2 separate regions of the Homo sapiens genome follow, and region 1 is reported to be linked to region 2. Evidence: microRNA targets listed by miRTarBase, many of them from high-throughput screens and not tested one by one. Region 2 holds a microRNA gene; the other region holds the end of a gene's coding sequence.
What was found. Region 2 holds the annotated microRNA hsa-miR-3919 (GCAGAGAACAAAGGACUCAGU, at 2,556-2,576, shown strand). A microRNA usually pairs through its seed, bases 2 to 8, with sites in the 3' UTR of a target mRNA and lowers its output. Matches are read on the target gene's strand: a 7mer-m8 pairs with bases 2 to 8, a 7mer-A1 pairs with bases 2 to 7 and ends in A, and an 8mer does both.

Region 1 (4,000 bases), not on the chromosome of region 2:
GACCTCCTGATTTCAGGTGATCCACTGGCCTCGCCCTCCCAAAATGCTGGGATTACATGTGTGAGCCACCTCGCCTGGCCTCTCTTCTATCTTTCTTCTCCTTCCTCCGTTCGCTCATCTCCCCTCTGCTCCCCTCTTCTCTCCTCCCCAACCCAGAGCAGTCTCTGCCCCAGGACCAGCTTTTCTTTGAAGAGAGCCCTAGGGGAGATCAGCCCTCAGGTCTGATGGGATCCTGGGGAGGGGGCTGTGGGCACCCCACTGTGCCCCAGAGTTCTGGGTGAGTTTGGGGGGCAGGGGGCAGAGGGCATCAGAGGACAGCCGCCTGGTGCCCATGCCATACTTTTGCCTCAGCCACCAGGTGCAGGTGAAGGAGGAGCCAGCAGAGGCAGAGGAAGACAGGCAGCCCGGGCCTCCCCTGGGCGCCCCTAACCCCAGCGCCTCGGGGCCTCCGGAAGACAGGGACCTGGAGGAGGAGCTGCCGGGAGAAGAACTGTCCTAAGGGCCTGTAGTGACCGGCAGGGCTGGGGTGAGACCCCTCCCTTCCAGAATCCAGGCCCCATCTCCCCCAACTCCACAGCCCCTCCCGAGCCTCAAGGCAAGTCCAGGACTCAGACCGGGGAGGCCCGGGCCAGCAGCTCCCAGTGTGACCTGACAAAAACACGTAGGGGCAGGGACGGTCCCCACCCCCAGGGACACAACCCCTGGTCTTGGACCAGTAGAGGACACGGAGGGTTCAGACCCCTCCTCAGACCCTCCCCACATCTGAAACTGCCTCCCCCCAACCACCAGCAGCAGCAGGGCCCTCCTCCCCCACCAGCTCTCCCCACAGGGCCCCTCAGCATCATGGAGACCCGCAGGCGGGGCTTAGCCACCCCTCAAACCCAGGGCCCCCTGGCACCTGGCTCTGGCCGTGTTTTCTGGCCAGAGGCCCCCACTTTCCTAACTCGTGCTCCCTTCCGCCTTCTTTTCCGTACTGTGAAGAAAGAACTCTCCACCCCAGCTCCCACCCTGCCCTGGCCTGGGTGGAGGAACTGTGCCTCCATCCCCAGAAGAAACAGCCCCCTCTGCTGCTGGGGTGGGACTGTCTGTGTGCCCTGTGGGGGTCCGTGTGAGCAGGCCCACCTGGCTCCAGACCCGCCCCCAACCTGAGACAGAACCAGGCTGAGCCAGGCCTCCACCCCCACCCCCGTTTGCTGGGGGCTCCTCCAGCCGCCCCCATGGGAAGAGGCCTGGTACCGCCTCACCCACAGAGGTCTGTGCCAGGTGCGCTTCTGCAGGTGGAGCCAAGCTCTCCCTGAGGCCAGAGGCGGGGCCTGGGCCGGGAGCCCAGGGGAAGGCCAGGCTGGACCCCGGCTCCACACCCACATCCAGCCTGCAGGCCTCTCTGCAGTCCTCTCACCCTCCCTCAGCTCCCCTTCCTCTGCAGTCACCCTCAGCTCCCCTTCCTTGCCCGCCTCTCCCCCCGCCGCCCCACCAGTTAAACGGATGACCAAAGACCTTTCTTATGCCGGAAGCAAAAACCAAAACTTTTTGTTGGCTTTTTCCTTTGTCGCCTCCCCAGCACCTGCCCTCCCAGTCTCCCACCCCGGCCCCAGGCTGGAAGCCCTCCCTCCACTTAAGTTATTGTTTTAAACCAAAGTTTACAGTGTCTGTTGGTGGCCAAGACCTTCTCTCTCCACCCCTCCTCCATCCACCCTGAGGACCCTGGGGCTCAGTGGAGGCAGGGCCCTGCCCCCCTCCCTTCCGCTCCTGCCCAGCCTGGGGGAAGGAGAAAGGAGGGGAGAAAGCGGGCTCTCACCCCCTCAGGAGTGGGCACGGGAGCCCTTCTCCCTGACCCTGGGCTGCTTCCTGGGGGCTCTCCAGACCCCTCTCTAGGACCAAGTCACCCGTCGTGCTGGGAGTGTGGATTCTAGCAAAAGAGCTGGAAAAAAGTCAGACTCTCCACAGACCCCCTATGGGGGACCCCCAACTCAAGGCCAAGGACTGGGCGTATCGGATGCTCATAACACCCCTGGCCTGGCCCCTTTACTGAGAAGACTCCTTGGATATTTCCCAAGAACCCCCCACATACACCCCTCACAAGCCACCCCTCCTGAGAGGCAGGGGGCCCTCCGCCCCCTCCCCATGTATTCCCCACCTGTGTTCCGTTTGACCAGCACAGAAATATTAAACGTCCTCTATTCACCGGGCCCTGTGTGTGTCACCGAGGTGCGGGAGGGGAGGAGCATTAAAGCTGAAAGATCGCTCTGCTCGGGGAGCCTGGGCAGAGCAGCAGCAACGTGAGGGTCGCTGTGGTGGTGGTTTCTGTGAGTGGATGGAATGAGCAGCCCTGCAGGGGCGCTGGGCATGTGCCCTCACTGTGGACAGGGCCCACCCACCTCCGGTTCCCCTGTGCCTCCTGTCCCTTCCACGCTTAAACAGGGTTCTCTGTCATTTTCCTGTTTTCTTCCAGAGTCCCAATCCTTTGCCCTAGTTCTTTCACTAGTTTGAAATCCAAGTTCTTGCCAGAGTGTTGGAGCAAGGCAGCTGATTTGCTGCAGGGATGGAGAGGACCACCGCCGCAGGGTTCTTTTACCTGTGCCACCAGCTCTGGAGACATCCACACCCATTCCCAGGTGTCCTTCCAGGCCCATTGTCCACGTCTTCAAGGGGGCTGCCTGGATAGGCGTGTGTGTGTGTAGTGCCCAGGTGTGGTGGTGGCATCCTGAAGCAGTAGGACCATTAGTGTGCGTGCACACCCACGTGGCACACTGTGTGGTGACCATGGTCATCATAGTGGGCTCACGGCGGAAACGGGATCATTCAACCTATACAAAGGGGACCCTGGATAGGCTGCAAGGAAAGAGGCCAAGGGCCAAGCTGCTAAGCCAAAGATGGCCCCTGACACCTCCCCCAGCCCCAGCACACCAGCCTGCACCTCTTATCCCGTGTTAAGTCCTGGTTCCCCACCTGCTGCCCCTCCTCAACACAGAGCCCCTCCCGCCGCCTCAGACCCCTGTGCACATCCCCAGGGCCTCAGCCGTCTCATTGGTCTTTATTTTTTATTTTTTTTAAGATGGAGTTTCGCTCTTATTGCCCAGACTGGAGTGCAGTGATGCTATCTCGGCTCACTGCAACCTTTGCCTCCCAGGTTCAAGTGATTCTCCTGCCTCAGCCTCCCAAGTAGCTGGGATTACAGGCGTGCACCACCACGCCGGGCTAAATTTTTTTGTATTTTTAGTAGAGACGGGGTTTCTCTATGTTGGTCAGGCTGATCTCGAACTCCCGACCTCAGGTGATCCGCCAGCCTCAGCCTCCCAAAGTGCTGGGATTACAGGCGTGAGCCACTGCACCCGGCTCTCACTGGTCTTACGCCACCTTCTGGACACTCCCTCCTTGAGGGCAGAAAGGAGTCCCAGGCCTGTCCCTAGGGACAAGGCCCAGGGAAGAGTGTATTTGGGGAGCAGGGGAGGGGAGGGTGTTGAGAAAGCTGAACTGGAGTCAATCACCCTTCCCACAAATCACCAAACTGCTGGAACTCTCCAGCCAAATGCTGGGAGAAGGACCTGGAGGGTGAGTCTTTGCTGACCTCTCTCTACTCTCAGGCATGTCTTTTGTCCTTTTCGTCCATCTATTTCTGTCTGTCGCTCACTCGCCCCGCTTTCTCTGTCTCACCTTCATCCACTCTGCAGGCCTGCTCCACCACAGCCCTAATCCTCTGGACGCTTGTGTAGGGCCTGGGGTGAATTCCCTGTCCCCCATGGTACCTCGAGAGGGGCTGGGGAGCTCAGCTTGGTCTCAGAGTCTCCCCACCAGATACTGTTTAAAAAAGTAGCACTGATGTGTTTTGTAATCTGCCCCTCCCAGCCCTCCGTGGAGGCTGCCAGGGCCTTGTACGGTAAACCTAGCTGCATGTAATCTGTGGACAATGGCATTCTCTACAATGCAATAAAAACAATTACCCATGATTTTGCTGCGGCCGCTTCCCCTTTCCCCTTCTTCCCCTCCCAGCTGGGACCTA
Region 2 (4,529 bases):
CCAGTGTCCCTGATGTTGTAAAATGCCCCTGATGTCACATTAGATCTTCTGATGACCATGGTGATTCTTGTTGACTCCAGTTGGCCACATGCCTAGACTATGCTTTATTGCTATGCCTAGACTATGCCTTGTTGCCCCTCCTGGAATGTGTGTTTCCACCACTTTCACTGGTTTATTATACTAGCCTGCCTAGTAATCTCTATGAATCTTTCTCTGGCCCTTTTTGATGCTAGCTGAGCTTTTCAGGTCCTTTCCTAGAACACTTGGCCTTGTTTGGAGAATTTAATCTAGACCTGGGACCTATGTGATAAGTTGCAGGGCCATCGCTCAGACATTTGACTCATCTCCTGGAGGGTTTTCTCATCTGTAAAATGAATAAGTCGGCTCAATTCCCGTTAGTCTCAAAGGGACACGAAAGCTTAACAAGATCGTGCTTCGAGATATTTGGAACACAGGGTGGCATTATCACATTATTATTTTCACAAGCTGTTAACCTGAAGGGGGAAAATAAAGAGTGGAAATTTAATGCCAGAGAGGTTTTGGCACTTTGTCAATTCAACATTAGCTTTGAGGGCTTTTGGAATTTTGCCTGAAATTTTCAACACCAAGTGGCTAAAAGCTGTGTTTTTCTGGGCTTGTGATATTCCTGTCCCCAGGGATGGCATTAAGCACTTGCGAAGGATGAACTGTGCCAGGCCTATCTTCCAGTGTCCCACAAACAGACAAAAAAGCAATGCACACTCTAAATTGCTGTGCAAACCCACATTTTCTACTTGGAACAGCACCTCTGACTTGTGCCAGTAGAAAAGGGATGATGGGAAGGGAGTAATCCACGATTGCATGTGTTAAATACATTCCCTATGTGACATGTGGGGCAATCGTGGCTGTGGAGGCTTCTGTTTGGGTGCTTGGATGGACCCTACTGAAGATCACAGGACCTTTATAGGTCTTTCACAATCTCCCACATCAGTCTTTTTTGAAAGAGAGCTATTGCTTATGCAAAAGTCGCCCTTGCCAACTAAACCAAAGACTGGGCTAATTAGAAGCTAGGAAAAAGAAATACATCCTCTTGGAACTTCATTTTGGGATTTTGGAAGGAAGAGAAAGGCAGGAAGACCTGCTAGAATCTGGGGAAACATTTATTCATTCCCTGTAATTAATGTTTAAGCTATGTGATCATAATTACACCGAAATATTCTAAGTGGTTTACTTTATTTGGACAAGAATTATTTTCAAATACATAGGATTCCACATATGCGCCTAAAACACATATGCACATATATTTAAAAAATAATATGCTTTATATATTAAAAGATGATAAATTTTCAGTGTCAAGAGCTAAAAAGTATAGTTTTGAATGAATGTGCTTACACTTCTTAATGTATGTACATTTTGTATTTTCATGAAGACCTACAAATCTGTGCTGTGTCAGTGGAAGAAGGGAGCTATTTACATTTTAGAGCAAAGTACAGTGATCACTAATTTATCAAAAACTGACAGGAAATGAGGCTTCTGTATAAATGAAATCTATCAATAATGGACGGTTACTTTTTTTTCAGTCAACACATTTTGAATGGCATTGTTTCTAAACTACATTGTAATATTCTCTGTCTCATTTTATAGCAATGCCTATTCATTTATCGTTGTAATGTGTATATTCATTTTAGAAAATATGAAATGTTAAAAAATATATCTCACCATTAATCCAACAAAGACCCCTATTGTTAACATTTCAGTGAATTTCCTTGGAGATTCCGAAATGTGTATACACTAGGTATTAGTATGAATATATATAAATATAGCTCTTAAACATATTTTCAACATTTTTCACTGTGCTTTTAAAAACTTAATATTTTAATTTCTGTGTCATTAAAATTTCTTAAAGTTTTATGGTACAGTGTGAATGAGTAATATGAAATCACATAGACATATAATTTATTGAACTATGCCACTATAGTTATCAATGTCAACATTGAGTGTTCATATATTTTCATATTTTTGTTTCCTTACAAGAGATTACTGTAAGTATAATAAAAATTTATATAACATTTTTAAGGATATTGATATATATTGTTACATCCCTAGAACTGTTGTGCTAGTTCTGTTAATTTAATAGATTGAAAGTGGCCTGTGTTTAAAACCTGAATTTCTTTTTTAGTTGTTGAGGCTTAACATTTTCACATTTTGTGGCCATGTTGACTTATTCTGTGAATTGTCTATTGTTTCACTGAGATTTTATGTGTTAAATATTACGTATATATTATTAAGCTTTTGCATTCGTATATGTGAGATATATTTTCCTAGATTGCATATTTCAATCTTTAGAATTTTAAATTTTTTTTTGGAAATAAAACCTACTTAGTATCCCATTCACCTATATATTTTTGTGTTTTTTGAAAACTGGTTTCAACTTTATCATTTGTCTTAAGTTCATTGAAATTTTGGTGTATGGCATAATGAGAAATAATAGTCTTATTTTATTCCAAGTAGTTAACCCTTTACCTGAGCACCATTTACTGAGTCCTTTGTTCTCTACTAGTTTGTAGTAGTTCGTAGCAGAGAACAAAGGACTCAGTAAATGGTGCTCAGGAATCTTTACCATATGTTAAAAATAAATCCATTAGAATCTGTTTCTGAACTACCTTCATGAATAGACATGGTTTCACATGTCTATTCTAGTACCTATATTTTACTGTCTTAAATATTACATTTATATGATGAATTTTAATATCTAGCAGGGAATTCTCCACTTCATATATTTTCATGTTCTTGGATGGTCAGACTCATTCCAGATAAACTCTACAATTGTATAGTTAAGAAATTATTTAGAGACTTTAATAGCAATTGCATCAAATCTGTAAACTAATATAAGAACTGATACCTTTGCAAATTTGTTCTTACCATCTAGGAACGCTGTGTAGATAAATAAATATTGATAAGGACCTAAATATGCATAAGAACACGAATAGATATAGATATCAGGAAAGATTTGAAATTTCATATGTTTTATATTTTTTATTTTTTTTGAGACGGAGTCTCACTCTGTCGCTCAGGCTGGAATGCAGTGGTATGATCTCAGCTCACTGCAACCTCCGCCTCCTGGGTTCAAGTGATTCTCCTGCCTCAGCTTCCCGAGTAGCTGGGATTACAGGCCCATGCCACCATGCCCGGCTAATTTTTGTATTCTCAGTAGAGACGAGGTTTCACCATGTTGGCCAGGCTGGTCTCGAACTCCTGACCTCAGGTGATCCGCCGCCCGCCTTGGCCTCCCAAACTGCTGGGATTACAGGCGTGAACCATCATGCCCGGCATATTTTTTACTTTACTTACTATGATTGTTCCTATGTACATGGATTATGGATTATTTCCTTTTTTTTTTTTTGAGACGGAGTTTCGCTCTTGTTGCTCAGGCTGGAGTGCAATGGCGCGCGATCTTGGCGTGAGCCACCGCGCCTGGCTATTTCCTTCCTTTTGTTCCACCTCTAATTGGTTATTACTATAATATAGGAAGCGATGGCTTTTTGTTGTATTGATTTGTATCTTTTCAATTTATTAAAATCTCTTAATAGTACTTCAGAATTTTTTTAGTGGATTCTTTCGAGGTTGTTAACCATGTAATTTTCTCAACTGCAAATAATACTAAATTGCCTCTTCCTTTCCAAAAGTCTTATTGTATTGATTAGAAAATTCAACCTAAGCAAAATAGGTTGTCTTATTATCCATAGTTGATGCGATGAGTTATGGTCTGTTCTTGCATTGTGGTATTGCTGTTTGGTTTTAACGGGTAGTTCTTTATATGTTGCTTTTTATTTCTATTTTATGGTATGTTGTTTAAGTTTTTACATCTCTGCTTAAAAACGAAATTCACCTGTAGTTTGTATTTCTTTCAAGTTTGAATCAGGGCTGTGCAAGCTTCGTAAAATGAAAAGCTTCCTAGATTTTCCTTTGGTCTCTAATTTCATATAGCATGGTAATTACATGTTCCTTGAAAGTTTGAAAAAAATTCTTGATAAAACCGTACAGCCACAATGTCTTTTCTTATAAATACTTTAAAATAACATTTTCATTTCTTCCATGGTTATTAGATATTCAGGTTTTCTACAATATCATAAGTAAATTCTGCTACTTACTTTCCAAGATATATAAGTGAATATCTTGAGATTAACTATCATATTATTTTGTTTAAAATTTCTCTCTGCATACTCCTTTATTACTTTTAATATTTATAATTTTGTTAATTGAAATTTTATAAGAATCAGCTATTGTGTTAATCAATTCTGTATTTTCTAATTAATACACTTTGATATTTTAATGTAATATTTAGTTTGCCTGTTAACTTTAGGTGTTTTGTTTTGTTTTTTTGAGATGGAGTCTCACTCTGTTACTCAGAATGGAGTGCAGTGGTGTAATCTCAGCTCAGGGCAACCTCTGCTTCCCGGGTTAAAACGATTCTCCTGCCTCAGCCTTCTGAGTAGCTGGGATTACAGGTGTACGCCACCACACTCGGCTAATTTTTGTATTTTTTTTTC

Region 1: the mRNA of FOXP4 is a reported target of hsa-miR-3919. Seed matches in the 3' UTR shown: 7mer-m8 at 2,424-2,430 and 7mer-m8 at 3,642-3,648.

The regions. Positions count from the first base shown.
Region 1 is chr6:41,598,438-41,602,437 of GRCh38, forward strand. It overlaps FOXP4 (forkhead box P4), which reads left to right. Exons shown (of 17, transcript NM_001012426.2): 17 at 352-3,947. The coding sequence ends at 499. MIR4641 (microRNA 4641) reads left to right here and starts at 286; the gene lies at 286-351. RefSeq lists enhancers at 1-387, 388-971.
Region 2 is chr3:159,280,145-159,284,673 of GRCh38, forward strand. MIR3919 (microRNA 3919) reads left to right here and starts at 2,502; the gene lies at 2,502-2,590. All of the region lies in intron 4 of IQCJ-SCHIP1 (IQCJ-SCHIP1 readthrough), which reads left to right. The region is part of intron 1 of SCHIP1 (schwannomin interacting protein 1); the gene reads left to right.